2 separate regions of the Homo sapiens genome follow, and region 1 is linked to region 2. A link means that fine-mapping ties the variant in region 2 to the expression of a gene that starts in the linked region. Tissue or cell type: lung. Region 2 holds a variant in brackets; the other region holds the start of a gene. All regions are shown on one strand. Distances are between the middles of the regions.

What was found. PIP is the estimated chance that this variant, and not a neighbour inherited with it, causes the effect.
Region 1: it holds the start of LINC02367, and the variant in region 2 is fine-mapped to the expression of LINC02367 in lung (GTEx, PIP 0.96).

Annotation. Positions count from the first base shown.
Region 1 is chr12:9,363,047-9,373,507 of GRCh38, forward strand. LINC02367 (long intergenic non-protein coding RNA 2367) reads left to right here and starts at 4,418. Exons shown (of 4, transcript NR_120479.1): 1 at 4,418-6,550. It overlaps LOC101928030 (a long non-coding RNA gene), which reads right to left. Exons shown (of 2, transcript NR_120481.1): 2 at 8,736-8,986. RefSeq lists enhancers at 144-253, 1,443-1,959 and silencers at 1,371-1,430, 1,561-1,670.
Region 2 is chr12:9,320,428-9,330,888 of GRCh38, forward strand. No RefSeq gene overlaps it. Among named protein-coding and RNA genes, the nearest start is that of LINC02367, 42 kb to the right of the region's middle. The variant C/G (reference allele first, on the strand shown) is at 5,883.

The DNA.
Region 1 (10,461 bases), 43 kb after region 2:
GGTTAAGTGACTTGCCCAAGTTCACACTGCTAACCTACAGCAGGGCCAGGACTCAACTCAGACCGTGAGATGCGGCCAGCGTTTGGAACAAAAGCGTATCTCATTGTGTTGCTTCCCTCAGCACCGAGGAGAAAGGAGAGAAACTTGGGGATCATCAGACCAGCCACGCCAGAGCTCATAGCAGTCTTACTCAGTCCCACAAGCCCACAGGACGTCAGCACAAGAACCTGTTCTTAAAACCATCCAATCTCACCTCTCGATTAACAGATGTGGAGACTCAGGCCCAGAGAGGAAAAGTGACTCATTCAAGGTCGCACAGATTAGTGGCAATGCCTAGACTTGAACTGAGATGAGCAGAGTCTGGTGCACTGCCACGTCCCACCCTCCTCCTCCACAGCAGGTGCAGGGAGGGTCCATTCTTCTGGTCACTGCAGCATAGTACAGTTTTCTGTGTCAGTGCCCTTCCTCTTAGAAAGAAACACCTCTGGGCTGGGGTAGCTAGCTCCCACTTTTAGCCATGTAAAATTTCTCTCTGGGCATTTTAGGTAGGAGTGTTGTCTATATTCTTAAGTGTCCGAGTCTACTTTGGCTACAGAGATGAATTAGGAAAAATTAGACTCTGCTTTGTATGTATGCAGAGTTCTCCGTGCACGATAAAGTGTAAATGAAAAGCAGCAAATGCTATTAGCAGGAGGGCAAGCCAAAACTGCTAGGCCCTTTTTAAATGTCCTCAAGTCATCCTCAAACCTACCCATGTAATTATCTTCTAAGTTCATTCTCAAAAATGAGATTCTACATTTCAGGGTTTATTTACAGCCAGATGATCATAATACTCCCCTGCTCAAAAAGCTTCGGTGACCCCTATTCCTTGAAATTAAAGTCACAGATTCCTATCTCATCATTCAAGGCCACCTGTGATCTGGTCAAAATCTATTTCTAGTAGTATTGCCCACTGTTTCCTTTCCAAGCACTCAACTCAGTCTACCTCCAGCTGATTAGATTTCCTAGAAATAACTACTCCTCCTTCTAAACCCCATGAACAAATGTTTTCTGAAAAGGTATTTGGAGGAAAGAGACTTTATTCCAGTGGACAAAACTGGGTGTTAGGTTTTGAAGGGAAGGCGAGGGTTAAAGAAAGACATACGTAAGAGGGTGGCTTAATAGCAAATGCAGGCTTTATGTCCAGCATAAAACCTACAGAAGTCAGGAACCAGCATAATGCCAGAGCCCACTGCTGCTTACAGGCTGGGGCAATTTATGGGCCAAAGGGGTCCGGGCAGTATGGCTTGCTGCCTGGCAGGATATTGATAAGATGTTCCCGTGATGAGATGGTTCTGGCCCTTGTTCCAGTGGGATTTCGTTGTGGTGTTCCTCGGATCTTTGTCCAGCATGATATGATAGAGATGTGTCTTTGGTTAGGCCTTTGTCTGCCTTGTGGTCAGGTGGTTAGGCAGGACGTTTCTCACACCCGAACCCCTGTTTCACTTTGACTAAGGTCTGCAAAATAGCAGGGAGAGCTTATGACATGGTGCAGTTTGGACTAACACTGAGAGACCAGAGTTCAGTGTAAAATGAATGTGCGTTCAGAGAACAGAGAGGAGTCGGGCTTTATAGCAAAATTTGCTGCCCAGGTTCCCCATCAGGTTCATTTGCATATGAACCCAGATTCATTTGCATTTGCTTTCCTCTGATGCAGCTGAGCCCTGATTAACCGAGCAGATGAGCTCTGATTGATTGGTTTCCAAGCCCTAAACTGGGAGTCTCTGTCAGACTGTGGCTGGCTGGTGGTGGGAGGGGCCCAGCAGCAGTTTGTCCTGGGAGCAACAGCAGGCGCTGGTTTGGCTTGATTGTGAAAAGAGGGGTCCTGTGATGCTCTTATATCTTTCTGAGAACACAGAGTATGTGATCGCTCCCACACCCGGCTGTAGCCACTGGGTTTCTGTTTTAAATATGAGTACCTCAGTGAGTCATAGGGAGTCCATTTGGTCTGTGGGCTGTGAACATACTTTAAACAATCCCAATCCTGTTCTCTCTTGACAAATCACTTTCTTTACCCAAATACAGATACTGGAGTACGTGTCTTTCCTCCCCTTAAGGACAGTACCTCTTGGGCTTACTTTAGTTAGCCCCACCTAGGAGAGAGCCTGGCACATGTTAGGTCTTAATAAACACTGAGCAAATGAATGACTGAGTTGTATGAGACATTTCATTTACCCTCCCCGGCTCCATGCCTGGGAGGAATGAGCTACCTCTGAAGATGGGTAACGTCTTGAGATTTTCACAAAAGAATATAAAGCTAGCAAGTCAAAGACAGTGTGATACTGCTTTAATTTTAGTTTAGTTTTTTTTTTTTTTTTTTCCTGAAACACAGCACATTAGGAGTTGAGATGATGGTATTGACTGTCCTTGTGGTTTGTGTGCAATTTTTAACCAGGATTCATGGCTGGGGAAACAAAAGCACTTCTTTGCTTGCATAACTTTTTTCCCTTCCTTTATTACTTCAAAGAGGCAAGATGTGGTTTGCATTCATTTCACTGCTAATATTGCTCTCAAAGATCGCTAAAGATCTCTTCTCCCCTTACACATTCCACTCATTTATAACCCAGATCCTCAGTGTGGCTAATGGAGGGTCCCTCAGCCCTGTAACTTCTGTGCATGAAGCAGTAGGTAGTGGGTCCAGTTATGTTAAACATTAGGTAATATCAGTATCTTTTAACCTTACTATGAGAATCTTAAAGATGGAAGCATTAGCCTCTGCTTATGATTGCTGCAGGCAAGAATCTGCACCAACCCTCCCAAGAGTATAAAGATCATCACCGTCACCGTCACCATTGTAAGGTCACAGCTCTTCACAGTTCACTTATCTTTTTCCTAGTTATTCTCCCTCCTAATCATTGCCAAAGTCTTGGGAGATAGGTGTGAATCCTTCTAGGACGCAGCTGAAAAAGTTAAATGTCTTGTCCTAGAGCACACAGCTCAGCAGCACCAAGAATGAAATGTTAAATCTGGTGTTTTTCCCTCTCTGCTGTAGTGAAGCTCTGCTAGAGATTTACCGAAGTCCTTGATATTTTAACCTAGCTATCAACTTCAGCCCAGAGAAGGTCTTCCAAAAGTAGATTCCAAAAGTATATTCATCCATCAACCATAACCTTAAATCTGAAGCCAGGAACTAAAAAGAAATTCTCAAGGTAACACAATTGTCATGAAGTCTCACTCCCAGGGCCAATTATAATCTGGATTTTTGTCTTCATCCTTCCAGGTGTCTCTGATCCCACTGTAAGCAAACCCTGAGTCCTAGGGCCTTTCTTCCACTTATTTCACTCTTTCTGTACACATTTTCCAGTACCTCCACCACTCACCACCCTCCAAAAAGAACTGATCCCTAAGCTTGTGCAGTGATTAACGATTTTCATGTCTTTTCTATTTGCCTGCAGTTATGCTACAAGATCTCTTGGCAAAGGACTAGCCAGGCATGCCTAATATATACATTCGTGTGATTTAACAAACTGGTTTCTACCACTTTCGGCCTGAAGTGACAGTGTTTTTTAACGTTGGTTGCAGGCAGGGGACTGTTGCCCCCTGCCAAGCACTTCAGCTTCCTTGCCCGGCCTCTCCTTGGCTTCTGTCTGTCCCCACCAGCAGCTCTTCATGGGACCCATCCTGACCCTCCAAGAAAGCAGAAAAGGAGGTTCCTGATGCAAAACCTAAAGAGCTTTCATCTGAGGAAGGTGAATCCTTTTTAAACTATGAGGCCTGGAGAGACGTTAAAATGAGAGCAATCACACCCTACTCCCCGCTTTGAGCTATGTATTCATCTCTTAAAACTGCTTGCTATTGCCACAAGTAGCTATGAATTAATTTTAATTTAGGATTATTATAGTGTCTCACCAGAAGCATAAACCACATCCTATAACTTAACAATAACCAATTGCTCATCAATTTTGTTTCTGTAATCCAAAGAGAGTTCCTGATCAACAACTTTGTACCAGCCCACTCTCTCGGTCCCAGTCTTTTGTTTTTAAAAACCTGCTTGGAACAAAGGCTCTAGGAAGCTCACAGCCAAGAGTACTTGGGTCTGAGTCTTCCAGGCAGCTGTCCTCACTTTGGCTCAAGTAAACTCTTTAAATTATGCTTTGCGTCTCAGCCTCTGCCTTTTGGGTCAACACTGAGGGGAGTAAATGAATGGCACCTGCTCCTTCTCTGTCTGAAGCTTGGACTTCTCCTGAGAGGACTTCCTGCTCCAAGATAGGAGGGAGTCTCACTCAGAAGAGGAAGGAGCTCCTGTCTGCTGAGGACACGGTTCCATCCAATGAGGTCAGCAGGGCTATCAGCAGCTTCCGTTAATTCCGTTGGGGCAGGCGTGTGGCAAGCAGCAGTTATTTGAGCTGAGGATGCTGGGATGGATTTTCACATGAGCAGTTGGCCCTTAGATCATGAGACCAGCCTAAGTGCCCAAGGAAATGGAACAGCAGGGAGGGGGAGGGACATCACACCCACTATCAAAACTTCTTGTTAGTCTCTGGCTTCCACATCCTTCCCCAAAACTTCAGCCCAATTCACAGCCGCATTTTTCCATCTCTTTGCCATTCCTCCATGGGAGAGCTTTCTGTTGGTACAGGAATAGCTGAGAAGTGGGAAAGATCAAGGGTAGTAAGAGCTGCCCCCGATAATCTACAGAAAGCTTTGCTGGAATGAGGTTGTGCATCTCTGAACCTGAGCTAGATTTGTTGGGTCAGGGACCATACTTATTTACTGGCCCAAGAATTAGAAGAGGAGGTGTCTAAGAAATGCTTGTTGAATGAATAAATAAACAGCCGAGTGAGTGTTTATATGAGCCTGAAAACTGCCTGCACCAGCACAAAAGTAAAGCCCCAACACCCTCAGGTCACACCTACTGGAAAAATATATGTCAGCCCCAGAAAAATGTGGGCAACATGAGGCAACTCCGGAGCAACACAGGAAACTGCCCTCCTCTTCTGGCCCCTCTTCCACTGTGATGCTCAAAGTCTGTGATGACCAAGTCTGGTCATCTAATCAGCAGGATATAAGAGGGTCATTCTTCACTGCGGCCATTCCAGTTTCCTGGAAACTTGGCTTTCTCCTGACCGTTTCCCCAGGAGCACGGTGGTGACAAGCTTGAGCTCTGACATCAGAAAGTCCCCAGTTTGAAACCTCTAGCTTCTTACTCGCTAGCTATGAGACTTTGGGCAAATTAATCTCTAAACCTCAATTTCTCAATCTGTAAAATGTTCAAGGTCAAGCAACTCACTTTTCCACATTGTAATTGATGAAACTAAAATTCAGACTCAGATCTGCCTCACTCCACAGTCTGTGCTTTTTCCTTCCCACTCATCTTTTTCTCTTTCTATTAAAAATTTCATAACACATTTGAGATTCTGTCTCAACTCATATCACTGAAATCATCTGTCACGTCTGATGATCATATAGAAGCCAGACTAAGATTCAGCCACAAATGTTATGCCTAAACATTTCTTATTATTTCTTTTTAATGTTTCTCATGTATACAATCAAACTCGCACCCTAGTATTATTGGCAGGCTAATATATGCCCATGAGACATGTAGCTTAAATCTCTATGGGATAGGATAAGTATTCTCCCTTTGTTTGTGATTTGAAAGCTTTCCATGGATGCTAAAGCGATTTGTTAAAATACCTTCACCTGTAAGTGTTTTTCCTCTCTTAAAAGCCTAATTCATCTCTGAGTTTGTTTACTAAAATAATCTAATTTGCTCATTTTCTCTAGCCATTCCAAGCTAAATCCCAGGAAGTACTAAAGAAGCAATGCACAGACACAGTATCATACAATTTGAGACACAGTATTATAAAATTGATGTGAACTTCTAGGCACAGTGTGCTCACAGTCTGTCTGGAAATAACTTTGTAGCAAGCATAGTTCCAGTCTAGCTGCCTGGCAGCCTGGCAGGATATTATTATTACTGATACTAATTTACTTTTTAATGTAAGTCTACCCAGAATATATTAAAGAAGTTTCAAGAAATCAGGATCATGGATTATAACCTGACGTAGTGCTAAGGAACCATCAGTTCCATGTAAGCATTTGGTTAGCAAGTCTTTTTCAAAGGCCATGCTTGAGAAACAGTTTTGCTCTCCCAAACAATGTGTTGTAGTTTTTTTTAGCATACTACTGTGCAGATAAATAAATGAGATATTAATGCCATTGCAAGTTCTGGCTTTGTGTAGAGTTTTCTAGTGAAGCCTGTTTAGGATCCTGGATTTGTCCAAGCTGTTCTGATTATCCCATCATTTTTAACATGGATAATCTACAATCTTTCATCTATTACATAAATTGAATTCTGGCACAAGTTCAACTGCTCTTCATTGAAACTGAGAAAAATTTTAGGATCACTTTGCTGGAATCCAAAGAAGATGTTAAATACTACCAAAAAAAAAAAAAGGCTGAAAACTGGTTTCCAAGAATCTCTGGGGCATCCTTAAGAACTCCCCTTGCATGTTCATTAGACGGCCCTTTACCCAATGTATCTCTAATAGTCTGCTGAAAATACTCAAAGGCAAGTAATTTTCATGTAATCAACTAAACAAAATGTTTAACAAATATGGCAAATATTAATATTTTTAACTGTTTATGTAAAGTGCAAGAGAGTTATTGATTAGGAGAGTAGCTCTGAAGCCGAACAGCCTAGGTCTAAATCCCGGTTCTTTCATCAACAAGCTCCATTACTGTTGATAAGTTATTTGAATTATCGGTGTCTTAGTATCTTTCCTTATAGAGGTGATGATTGCTCCTACCTAATAGCACTGTAGCAATCATATATGCAGAGCTTATCACACTAATTGACATTCAAAAATATTAGCTCTTAAAAAATTATTATTAGAAATTTGAGAAAAAGAATCACACTAAAAAAGGATAAAAGGCATTGAAAATAATTCCCCCAAAAGAAAATAAAAATTTCTCAAATCATATAGGACTTATTTTGTAACATTAAGAAGATTCCAATTAATTCAAATTAAATGGATGATGCCTTATCTTCACAATGACATTCCAATAGCTTGTTTTCTTATTTTAATGAAAATATGTAATGATGGTGAAGATTCAGTGAGACAGGCACTTCCATACTAGCTGCTGGAATTCTACGTTGACACAACATATTTGGTGAGCAATATGGCAATCAGAAGACTAAAAGAATGTTGCATATTTTGTCTTGGTAATTCCTCTTCTGGAAATCTTTCTTAAGTGAACAATTCCTAATTCAAAAGCTACTTACTATATAGTTATACACAAAGACATATGCTACAAAATTATTAATTACTAGGAAAACAAAATGAAATAATCTATATGTTATATAATAAAAGCATAACTAAATAAATTTCGTGTAGTCACATAAAGATATGTTTATGCAGCAGAAAATTGGAATTTATGAAAAGATTGGCATAATATAGAGACAAGTTTTCTTAGTTATCATGAACAGAAAAATATGATGGCAGTCATGAAAAATATTCATTAAAAATTAGAGGAAAATAAATATGTCTATCTATCTAGCTAGCTAGCTAATTTTGAGATTCTGTTTTATAACTGAAGTTTAGACTCTGTGACCCTCCCCTAAAAGTCTGTTCATCTCTTTTTTAGTTAAGACTGTTGACTGTTTTCCACAACAACCAGTAGACATCAGTGACCATTAACCACTTTTCTCATGCATTCTATTTTCCTTATTTCCAGAATACATTCCCTTAAGCTAAATACAACTTCTCCCTCTACATCTGTTTTCCATGAGCATATCTGGATTTACTGGTATATCTATCACTTCCATGTCCTTTTCAGGATTGGTGAACCATGTCATCCATTCCTGCTCCAGGCAGAAGCTTGTTCTCAGTCCTTGGTTTTGAGCTTGTGTATCTGTCTCTCTCTTTAATTTTTATTTTAGGTTCAGGGGCACAAGTGCATGTAGGTTAGATGGGTAAACTCATGTCACATGGGTTTGTTGTACATATTATTTTGTCTTCCAGGCACTAAACCTACTACCCAATAGTTATTCTTCCTGGTCCTCTCTATCCTTCGACCTTCTACTCTCAAGTGGGCCTCAATGTCTGTTATTCCCCTTATTGTCTCCGTGTGTTCTCATTATTTAGCTCCCACTTATAAATGTGAACATTCGGTATTTGGCTTTCTTTTCCTTTGTAAGTTTGCTAAGGATAATGGCCTCCAGCTCTATCCATGTCCCTGCAAAGGACATGATCTAGTTCTTTTATGTGACTGCAGAGTAGTCCATGGTGCACATGTACCACATTTTTTTTTAAATCCAGTCTGCCGTGGATGGACATTTAGGTTGATTCCATGTCTTTGCTATTGTGAATGGTGCTGCAATGAACATGTGTGTATGTATTTCTTTATGGTAGAACAATAAATCACAATGTTAATGGCTGTTGGTAGAATTAATTTTACGTAATTTCTAATCTTTTTCTTTATATTTTTCAAATATTCTACAATGAGAATACATTGCTTCTCTAATAATATTAATGCAAGCATATAAATAATTTAAGTTCCCTGGTTAATCTCACTTATTATCTCTAAGCTTTGTGTCTCCTTGTGAAGGCAAATCTCCTGAATAAATGCTTACTTAGCACGCGCATCCACTTGGAATCCATCATCTGAAATAGTTACTGTTCATGGTGCATTGACTTTAACTTCAAACTTGGGCAACACTGGAAACAAAGAGAAATATACTTCAGCCCCCACAATCACTGGTGAGCAAAATTTATTGCAATCATGTAGCTTAAGGTGCTTCCCAGCACCAGCTTTCCCTGTATGTCCATCTGGATAGATCATGTTCTGTTGCCCCAGATTCCATGTGGCACCAGTCTACATGATGGTGTCTCACTAGTCATTAACTCTTCCTTTTTCTTTTCTCTGTCCTCAGAATTTCAAGTTTTTTCCTTTGTAATCTCTTAGATCTCTCCTGGCAGATTGGGCTCTAGAAAATGTATATTTCCTAGGGGAAAAAAAACGACAGAAATTAGAATAACGATACTGGGGGAGGAGTGAGGAGGAGGAAAATGCTGATGATGAAGCTGACCAGGCCAAGGAAGGGAGATGAGAAAAACCAGATCAAGCTTCACCTACTCCTGCCTACGTCTAACACCAAAGGTGTTTTGTTCCATGCTTTGAATCCTTTATCTACACAGGACAACTACAAATAGCAATTGGTTACCCTACCCTTGATAGTAAATTGGTGTGTCAGTGTCTTTCCTGATTTTCTTTTCACGACAATTGAGTAACCTCCAAACACTGTTTCTGAAATCAGTGGGAATGAGAGGAATCATACAGTATGGACTGTTTTGTGACTGGCTTCCTTGTTTCCACATTATGTCTGTGAAATTCATCCCTCTTGTGGCAGACAGGAGGAGCTCACTGCCTTTCACTGTCTTGTAATCTTCCATGGCCGGAGCACCCCACACTGTATCCATTCTATTCCTTCCACTTTTTGATGATGATGAATGAACATTCATCATCTCTGAATGTGTTTGTATATGACTTTTGGTGAACATAAATGCTCATTTCAGTTTGGTAGATACCTAAGAAATTGAATTGCTAGGTCATGGTTTTTTCTTACATGTAGCTTTAGCAGATACAGAAAGTTTCTTATAGTTGTGGTTCAAGTTACACGCCCACCAAGTGCAGACAAAAGCACTAGTAGCTCCACACTCTTGCCAACACGTGGTATTGTTAGTTCTTTTCATTCTAGTGCATCTGGGGAATGCAGTGCTATATAACCTGCATTTTCTTTCCTTTTTTTCTTTCTTTTTTTTTTTTTTGTTGTTGTTGTTGTTGAGACGTGGTTTTACTCTGTTGCTAAGGCTGGAGTACAATGGTGTGATCATAGCTCGCTGCAGCCTCCACCTCATGGGCTCAAGGAATTGTCCCTCCTTAGCTTCTGGAGTAGCTGGGACCACAGGCATGCACACCATGGTCAGCTTAATTTGTATTTTCTTGATAGTTAATGAAGTTGAACAGGTTTTCATATACTTATTGGCTGTGTGAATGGCCTCTTTTGTGAAATACTTATTTGACCCATTTATAAAGATTTTTATTGTCATTTGTTATTAATCTGTGGGGTTTCTTTTTCTTTTCTTTTTTTTTTTTTTGAGACGGAATCTCACTCTGTAGCCCAGGCTGGAGTGCAGTGGCTCAATCTTGGCTCGCTGCAAGCTCCGCCTCCCGGGTTCGCGCCATTCTCCTGCCTAAGCCTCCCGAGTAGCTGGGACTACAGGCACCCGCCACCACGCCTGGCTAATTTTTTGTATTTTTAGTAGACGGGGTTTCACCGTGTTAGCCAGGATGGTGTCGATCTCCTGACCTCCTGATCTGCCCACCTCGGCCTCCCAAAGTGCTGGGATTACAGGCGTGAGCACAAGAAATTCCCACAAGAAATCTGTGGGATTTCTTGATATATTCTAGATAAGATTT
Region 2 (10,461 bases):
GAGGTGAGAGGATCATCTGAGCTCCAGGAGGTCAGTGGAGGCTGCAGTGAGCCATGATCATGTCACTGTACTCCAGCCTGGGCAACACAGTGAGACCCTGTCTCAGAAAAACAAAACAAAACGAAACGAGAGAGCATCCCAGGTAAAAGGAACAGCTTGAACAAAGGTACGTAGTGAAACGGCAAGTGGTCTTGAGTGGTGGGGACACAGTCATCCTTGAGGAAGTACCAGGAAAAAGAATGATAAAGAGAGGCCAGTTTGTGAAAAACACCCAAAACCAAGGCTAGGAGTCTGGTCTTGAACCAGGAATGAAATCCTTAGACCTGTGCTGTCCAGTGTGGTAGCCACCAGGTACATGCAGCCACTCAGCACTGGAAATGTGGCTAGTCTAAATTGAGATGTGCTGTCAGTGTAAATACACACCGAATTTCAGACTTAGGAAAAAAGAACATAGACTATCTCATTAAAATCTATATTGATTACATGCTAAAATGACCATAATTTGGATACATTGGAGTAAATGAAATATATTGCTAATTTCTTCTGTTTCTTTTTTTTTTCAACTGAGTCTTGCTCTGTTTCCCAGGCTGGAGTGCAGTGGCACAATCTTGGCTCACTGCAACCTCCACCTCTGGGGTTTGAGCAATTCTTCTGCCTCGCCTCCTGAGTAGCTGGGATTACAGGCACCTGCCACCATGCCCAGCTAATTTTTGTACTTTTAGTAGAGACGGGGTTTCACCATGTTGGCCAGGCTGGTCTCAAACTCCTGACCTCAGGTGATCTGCCCGCCTTGGCCTCCCAAGGTGCTGGGATTACAGGCATGAGCCACCACGCCCAGCCTCTCCTATTTCTTTCTATGTTAAAATCACATATGTGATTTCCATATTTTTCTTTTGTTTTCTTTTTGCCACACTCAGTGTCCTGTGATTCCAAAGAAATGAATCCCAGTTCTTTTCAGGCAGGAGCTATCCTAGAATGGATTCTGGCGTAAGCATCAAAATCATTCATAACATTATCATTTTATGGCCCCTTCGTTCTGTATCTGGTAGCTCTTAAACTATTATCATGAAGATAATCATTATTGTGCCTCTCTCAGCAGATGGTATTTCCTTATGCTACAATGGTACTACAAATATTAGCTCATAATACCCATGTATGTTAGAACCATTCTAACACCTTCTCAAGAACTATTCCATTTAACTCTTAATCACAGTGAATTTATTATTATCTCCTATGTTACATAAGGAAATGAAGTTGGAAAGACCACATGGCATTTTTTTTCAACATTGAAACCCTACTTGAGATCAAGCCCAAACTTGAACCTATGTTGTCTGACTATAGAACTTCTGTTATTTATCAGTATGTTTTATTATTTTTATACATTAAAATTGAAGATCTTGGAGTTTAAAAATTTTTTTAGTACTACCGATTGTAAGACCCCTTTTTATGATACTTTGTCTTTATGTAAACCTAAACTATACTTTTTATATATATATATATATATATATATATATATATAGACAGAAAAACAGAGAGTCTTACACTAACCACCCCCCCCCCGTGTGGTCAACATTTTTGTTACTTTAAGATACACCACCCCAATTAACTTCACAACAAACTTTGGAGTCATGTAATACTATCTATTTTTAGGAATGAGAAAATCCAGGCACAAAGGTTAATTGGCAATTATCTTTTGCAAAGTCTGTGGTGCTCATCTGAAAAGATGACGATCACTTCTTATTTAGTGGAAAGACAATAAATAGTTGATAAGTAATAGTCTTCCATCAGGGAGTTTTGTAATGAGAAACCCTGACTCCTCAGTTCCCCAGTGGATGACTGCAGTTCACTCTCGGTCTTTGCTATTGTGTTACCTGCTTATCCATTTTGTTACCTTTTAATGCATTACATAAATGCATAAATATTCTTTAATAATGGTGCTTTCCTCACATCTATGCCATCCGTGTTCATCAAGATCTTCTTTCAGTTTCTTTGACAACTAAAACTGTACATATGTATTGTGTATGGCGTAATATTTCTACTGCACAGCATTGCTTTACACAATGTGGTAAAAACTATGGACTCTCCCAGGAAAATGCACACACACCGTACCCCTGTCTCATAAGGCAGTTTATAGTTTCAAAGTGCATGGAGCCCGTCCTGCACACCATTCTCCCACACCCCGCTCCAGCGCCTCTCCCTGAGTTACAGACCTCACTGTGGGCCCCCGGGGAACCAGCGCAGAGGTTTAAGCGGTGTGGGGTCAACTCCAAGGGTCAGGAGTTGGCAACTGGTTGGTTCCCCATATAATTGATGCCCCCGACACAGCATCTCCCCGAACCAATAATAGAAGCTTCTGACTCCTTCGCCCACCCTTCTGACTTCTTCTTGCTTCTCCCATGGAAGCAGGTGTGGGAACCGCTGAGCGGAACACCCTCCCCCAGCGGGAAATCCGGGACACGCAGGAGCCTCAGTGAATCCGACCATTGTCTCATCTCACCAGGCAGGTGCCTCCTCCATCCTATGTGCGATCAACTTTATTACTACAATTATTAATATAAAGCTGTTGTAACCAAGTGGGTAATAGAGGAACGCCACACTTTGAGACTAATTCAGGAGTTCTTTATTAGCCAGCGATCGAGAGACGGCTAGCGCTCAAAATTCTCTCAGCCCTGAAGAAGGGGCTAGATTTTCTTTTATACTTTGGTTTAGAGAGGGGAAGGGGAGCCTAGCTATAGCAATCTTATAGAAGTAAAACAGGCAAAAAAAAGTTAGACAAATGGTTACAGGAAAACAAATGGTTCCAGGTGCAGGGGCTTTAAATCCATCACAAGGTGATGGGTGCAAGGGCTTTGGGTGCTATCTACTGGATACAAATGCAGGGGCTTAGGATACTATCACCCGAGCGAATTCCTGGGAACTGCGGACATAACTTGCCACAGGACCTTATCAGTTAATTGCACTCTGATGTGCTGGGAGTCAGCTTGCACAAGTTAAGTCCTTGAGGAATTGGGTGGGCAAGGAGCTGCAAGTGAAGGAGCCAAAATGGAGTTTGTCTGGCTCTCTCAGCTAAGGGAGACTCAATTCAGGTTAAAACAAGGTAGCATATCATATTCCCCACTTGTTACAAGAGGGTTATATTGGACTTTAAGATATATAAGTTTGACAGAAGCTATGTGTTGCTTTATAAAGTTAAGAAACCAGTTTTAACTTACGAGGTTTGAAGACTAAACAAGAGGAGGAGAAAGGGGTCCCGCCAATCCAGTAATTAGAGTAGTTAGTCATGGATTACAGTTAAACATGCTTTGGTACTAGGGGGTGTTATGAATTTGAGCAGGAATGCTGTCCACTTTCAGAGCCGTCAGTGTGGTGAGGATGACAGTATGAGGTCTTTTCCAGGCAGGAGTGAGTCCTTTTTTTTTTTCTTTTGGAACTTTTTAACATACACCAGGTCACCCGGCTGGAAAGAGTGGCAGAGCCCCGTCTGGTCAGGAACTGGGTTGGGATGAGCTCCCCGGACAAGCGGCTGGATGATGTCTTGTACCTGTTGGAGAGACTGCAGGTACTGTAATAAATTAGCTTGTGAGATTTCTGCTAAATGGGTATCCCTTAGCTTAGGCAAGATAGGCGGAGCCCTCCTATACATGATTTCAAAAGGTGAAAACCTAGCCCGGTAAGGAGTGCATCTCACTCTAAGAGGGGCTAAAGGAAGGAGTCTCACCTAATTTTCACCGGTCTCTAAGATCAATTTTGTAAGAGTATTTTTTAGGGTGTGGTTCATGCGTTCTACCTGCCCAGAGCTCTGGGATCGAGAGGCACAATGGAGCTTCCATTGAATGTTTAGTGCCTTACTGACTGACTGAGCTATGGACGAGGTGAAGGCCGGTCCATTATCAGACCCTATGGCAGCAGGCAGCCCATGTCGAGGGATGATTTCATTGAGTGAAAACCTAACTACCGTGGTGGCAGTCTGGCAGTCTCGTTCTTGGTGGCAAATGCCTCAGTCTATCCAGAAAAGGTGTCTAGTAGTACCAGAAGGTATTTGTACTCTGCCTGGTGTGGTTTTATTTCTGTAAAGCCAATTTCCTACCTTCTCCTGGCGAGCCTCCCCGGAGGCGGTGGCCTGAGCTGGGTTTAGGACCTTGCTTGGCGTTCACCTGGGCACAAGCTGCTTGGTTCGCTAAGTCCTGAAGGTGGGGGATCTTGAAACGGCTCCTTAGAAGCTGGGCCAGGTTTCCTCCTTCTAAATGGGTGGTAGAATGCAGACGACTGATTAAAGTTTCCCCGAGAGCTTGGGGTATGAAGATTCCGGAATCAGGAAGAATCCACCAATCTTCCTGATTTTTACTGGCCTGAAGATCCAAAGCCTATTTTTCCTCCTCTGGGGAGTATTCTGGGTGATCTGGTAAGTCAGGTTGCGGAAAGGACACTGCAGGCAGCAGAGTCAGAGGCGTGACTGGGAGTTGAGCTGCCTCCCAGGCTGCAGAGTCTGCTCTTTGGTTACCACAGGCAATGGCCATGTCTTCTTTTTGATGTCATTTGCAGTGAATTACAGCCAGCTGTTGAGGGAGCCAAACAGCTTCAAGCAGGGCCAAAATTTCTTCTTTGTTCTTGATAGCCTTTCCTGCTGAGATGAGTAGCCCATGCTCTTGGTAGATGGCTCCATGTACATGCACAGTAGCAAAAGCATACCTGCTGTCAGTGTGAATTTTAATACGTTCGTCGTTACCCTATCGGAGGGCCTGAGAGAGGGCAATCAACTCAGCCCTCTGTGCCGAGGTACCTGCTGGCAGTGCTTGGGCCCACAGTATATTCGTCTCCGTAGTGATGGCAGCACCAGCCTTTCGAACTCCCTGCTCAAGGAAGCTGCTACTGTCTGTAAACACAGTGGCATCCGCCTCCTTTAAAGGCACGTCTTGGAGATCAGGTCGGCCAGTTTCCGTAGTCTCTAACAGTTCTTGGCAGTCATGGACAGGTGTGGTAAGGTCTGGGTCAGGGAGCAAGGTAGCTGGATTTAAGCATCTTGTGGGAGAGAAAGTTAAATGAGGCTGATCTAACAGTAAACTGTGATACTGCAGGATGCGGGCATTTGACATCCATTTGCCAGAGGCACTTCATAGTAAAGTGTCTACAGCATGAGGACCTGTAAGGGTTAAATTTTGGCCCAGAGTCAGTTTATCAGCTTCCTGGACCAGGCTCGCTGTTGCTGCTACTGCTCACAGACAACTTGGCTACTTGGTGGAGGCCACAGGGTCTAGCCTCTTAAGACAAGTAGGCTACCGGACGTCACCATGGCCCTCCACTGTGGCGGTCACCGTGGGCTGCTGGGGGCCAAGAGAGAAGGAGCCCCGGTCTCGTCAGTCATCAGACTCCTCCGCTGCGGGGAGGGTGAGGACTTAATTTTTCTTTTCTGGTTTTTCCTCTGGCTTTAATGGGCATTCTTTTTTCCAGTGTCTAGTCTGCTTGCAATAAGCATGTTGGTTTTTCTCCAGGGGAGCCTGCTCGCCTTTCTTGCCTTTCTGGCGGGGACCTGGGGTTCCCTGGCCATTCCTCTGTGATGGGGGCCTTTCCTTCTTGGCTTCCTGGATGGCCGCCACTAAGATTTTCGCATGTCTTTTGGATGCCTTATCGGCGGCCTTTTCAGTTGCCTGAGCTGCCCGTTTTCGCTTTTCAAACTCTCGATTGTCAAAAACTTTCTGGGCTATCTCTAGAAGTTGGCTAATGTTCATTCCAGCAAATCCTTCCAGTTTTTGTAATTTTCTTTTAATATCAGGGCCTGCCTGAGCCACAAATGCCAAATTAATAGCACAGCTATTCTCGGGAGCCGCCGGGTCAAAAGGGGTGTAACTCCGGTAGGCCTCCTGGAGGCGTTCCAAAAACGCCCC[C/G]GGTGGCTCATCAGGTCCCTGGACAACTTCAAATGTCTTAGACAAATTTATGGGTTTTCGAGCAGCTCCTTTGATACCCGCAAGGAGATACTGGTGAAAATCATCTAAAGCTCTCTTCCTGCCTGAGGAGTTTGGATCCTAATTAGGCCGGGTAGAGGGAAAACCTCCTCTAGGAGGTTATGAGCTTCCTCCTCTGGTCTACCGTCTGATGTAAGGAAATATTTTCTGGCCTCTCTTCGGGTACGTTCCTTCTCTTCAGAGGTGGAAAGGGTTAAAAGGAGCTGTTGACAGTCCTCCCAGGTGGGCCGGTGAGTCCGGAGCATGGACTCCATCAGTGAGGTCAAGACCTGGGGCATTTCAGAAAAGGGGGGGTTATGAGTCTTCCAGTTGTACAGGTCAGAAGTAGAGAAGCGGACATAAACTAAGAATGGGCCTGAGTGCTTATCGCCCGGAGGGACTTGTGCCTCCTCAGCGGGAGGAGGGGGGCTACCTCCTCCTGCCGTGGCCGCGATCAGGAGGCAATAGGTGGAGAGCCCACAGGGGAGGTAGTGCAGGAGACAAGAGAACATTCTGAGGGAGCAGGAGGGTTATAAGGCGGTGGAACTGGGTGAAGGAAACTTTCCTCTTCCTCACAAGGAGGCAATACAGGAGGAGCCGAGCCGGCTGAGGGTCGAGGCGAAAGTGAGGTCTGGCTCAAAAGGACCTTGGAGGTAGAATTATGAATGGCGCATGAGCGGAGCCGTGGAGGAGGGCTCCGGACCAAACTCAGCCATTGATCAATGTAGGGAAACTGATCGGGGTGACCGGGAGTTCCAGCAACAACCCGCCACACAGTCTGAACAATTGCGAGGTTCAGTGACCCTTCTGGGGGCGGGGGTGCACCTGACTCTAAACTTTGGCCATTCTACTCCACAGAGTGTCCAGAGTTTGCCTTTTTTAAGGCGGAGCCTATAATCCTCTGAGAAGCCTAGAGAGAAATTTTGTAACATACATTGGAGAGGGCTCCAAGCTTTATGAGGCCAGGAAGAAGAGTTTCCTATTCTGGAGGCAGTTTAACAAGGTTTGAGCAGAGATATTAAACTTAGCATGGACAGAGAAATTCATGACCTAGGGGGGCTGTAGTATCAGAAGAACAGAAATAACATAACCAGAAGGAGTGGCAAAACAGCTATAACCAACACTTCCTGCCGCATAAGGTTTGTCTTCTTAAGCTTTGAGACTTAGGGAGAGGACACGTGGCAGGTCTGAGGCCCGTGGGACCTATGTGACTTCCCTCTCCCCTTTGACTTATAACCTAAATATCTTTGGTGTCTCCACGACTCAAAGGCAAAGAGTTCAGACTTGGCCCTTTCTTTTAAGGGTTTGAGGAGGGAGAGAAGAGCCAAGTCTTGGAGGCGCTGGACTTGCTGCGACACAGGAAAACGAGATGTGCAGGGCAAGGGATGGCGATGAGGAGGAAAGGGGCCACTTGGATCTTTCCTAAGGTAGGAGAGTAGTCACAGAGGATAAGAGTCCAGCTGGAGTGAAGCAGTACGGGGGTAGTCCTTCTATTTTAGGGTTGCCAGATAAAATACAGTATGCAAAATCAATGTGCATTGGAGAAAATAATTTATTATTAGAGAATACGTAATTTCTTTAGCATAAATATGTCTTGTGCCATTCTTAGTTTGGGACATACTTATGCTAAAAAATTATTTGTTCTTTATCTGGAATTCAGAATTAACTAGGCATTTTATATTTTTATTTGCTAACTCTGGCTACCTTATTCTCTTCTTAATATTCTTCAACTCTCCTAGCTTTGCCCTCCTTCCCTGCCCCCTCTTCTAGGGGAGTCGGATCGAGTTGTAAGGAGAACATGCCCTCCCCTCCTCTTCCCTTCCCTTCCCTCCCCTTCCCTTCCCTTCCTTCCTTTTCCCAGTTTCTATATACTGTATTAGTCACTAATCTAAGTGTTCTAGGTACAACAAACAAAACCACATCAAAATAATCCACAGCTCCCCACTGCTCTCAGAGGCCTACATGCTGGTGGGAGAGATGGCAATTAAACAAGATTAGTAAGTAGGGTAGAGAATATTAGAGAGGAAGATGTCCTGAGAAGAAGAAATAAATCAGGAAGAGGATATGAAGTGCTGGGGAGTGTTGAAATTTTAGATGGGGTGGGGCTTGACAAAGCCTCCCTGAGAAGGTGTCTTCCGAGGAAAGGCTTGCAAGGAAGGGAGGGTAGGTGTTTGGGGGAAGAGCATCTAGACAAAAAAAGACAAGTACAGTGCAAGGTTCTGGAGGCAGGCGCGCACTTGGCTGCTGTGTTTGAAAATGAGGGCGGTGCGGCTGCAGGGGAGAGGACGGGGGGTGGACAAGAACTATGGGGTGGCCAGGTCCTATGGGGCTGTGGGAAGGACCTTGAACTTTACTCTGAGGAGCATGGGAGCCATCGCAGAGTATTGAGCAGAAGAGTGGCATGACCTGGCTGGATTCTTTCATAGAGTCCTTCTGGCTGTGATATTACTCTCTATTAGACAGGCAAGCTCCTTGAGGGCAGGCATTGTGTCCTATTGACCTTTATTATAAGGACATAGCACATCTAGCCTGTAGAAGACTTCAATATGTTTTTTCAAATGAATGAAGAACGACTGAATGAATGCATGAATGAATGCTGTCTCCCGACAGCCAGATCCTGGCTCCTAAGGACTCCGGGAGTCTTCTCACTGTCGAAGGAAAACTCTGGTAGAGGATGCTGCCAGCAGCCAAGTCCCTGGGGCTCTTAGCTGCTGCTGTGGCAGCAACACACATCCAAACCCGTTTTCCTTCTTGCCACATAGCAGGCTGCTTAATGGATCACTGTCACCTGGAGGGAGAATTTCAGGGGAGACCCTGCCCTGGGCTATCTTCTGATTGATGATGTCATCGAGCGTTATTAACAAAATTATAGACAAAGGTGGGAGGAATGGAGGATTTATTAATGGATGGCCTCAAAATTTACAACTATAGATTGTATTTATCGGTTCAAGCCAAGAGGCCCTGTCTACATTTCACCTTGACAACATCTTTGGGTTGAACCTCATGCTTCTCCTTCCTTTACCACAGGTCATCATCTGTCTTCTCCATAGTTCATAGAACAAAAAACAACATGAAGTCCCGCAAGAGCTAGTATTTCTTGTGAGGATTTAATCCTCTGAATAACTATGAAATGGGAAGCATAATTAACTCCTTTTACAGATAATGAAACTGGAGCTTGGAGAGTTAGTACCGTGGCCAAGATCTCTGAGATAGGAAGTGGTGATACCCAGGACAGGAATCTAGATGCTACGATGCCAGAGTCTTGAACCAACCCCTATGCCTGCTGGCCTTGGGATTAACCAGAAAAATGAAAGTCCAGATCCAATTGCTTGAATTTGTTTTTTTAAAAAAACTTTTATTGTAGGCTCAGGGGTGGATGTGCAGGTTTATTTTATAGGTAAACTCATGTCACAGGGGTTTGATGTACAGACTATTTCATTACCCAGGTACTAAGCCTAGGACCAAATAGTTATTTTTTCTGCTCCTTTCCCTCCTCCCACCCTCCACCCTTTGCTAGGCCTCATTGTCTGTTGATCCCCTCTTCATGTCCATGTGTTCTCATCATTTAGCTCCCACTTATGAGAACATGCAGGATTTGGTTTTCTGTTCCTGTCTTAGTTTGCTAAGGATAATGGCCTCCAGCTCCACCCACGTTCCTGCAAAGCACATGATCTCATTCTTTTTCTATGGCTGCATAGTATTTCATGGTGTATTTGCACCACATTTTCTTTATCCAGTCTTCCATTTATGGGCATTTAGGTTGATTCTGTGAATTTGTGTGTTGAAGCATAGCATAGCATAGCATTTCGTATGCCTAAAAATATGGAAATAATAAGTGCGTGGCTCAATGAATTGTCCAAAGCAAGTGCACCCAGTAACCAGTACCCATAAGAAACAGAACATCGTCAGCCCTCTAGGAGTTCCCTCATGTTGTCATCTCAGGCCACTGCGCTGGAGAAGAGTCTCCAGTGATAACAAATATTCTCACTTCTGAAGTGAGAATTTTAATATTTTAATTTTAATATTAGTTTAAAATTTTATTAAATGAAATGGTACAGAATAAACTCTGTCAGGATAATTTATTATATTTGAAAGTCTCACGTGTATTTCTAAAGGCAGCTATAGTTCACTTTCAGTTCTGTATAGCTTTTATTATATGCGTCTATATATGCAATATCATATTTTAGGACTTTTGTATATATATATTTCATGTATTCTTTTTATTATTGATGTACATGCGAGTTGTTTCCAGTTTGGAAAAGTGCTAAATAATGATGTATTGTAGAAAAGAGAAAAATAGTCTAAGGAGAAACTAAATTAACTCACAGCTCCGCTATTGAGAATTTACCTCCCTTAACTGTCATAGTTCTGGCCATTTGTGGACGTTCTTTTGCGTGGTGAACAGATGCAGGCATTTCTAACGGATCTATACCTGAGTCAAATTGTGGGGCCATAGAATGTATATGTCCGTCTTTAGAAAATATTATCAAAGGGCTTTTGAGGGTGTTTGTAGCAGTTTACA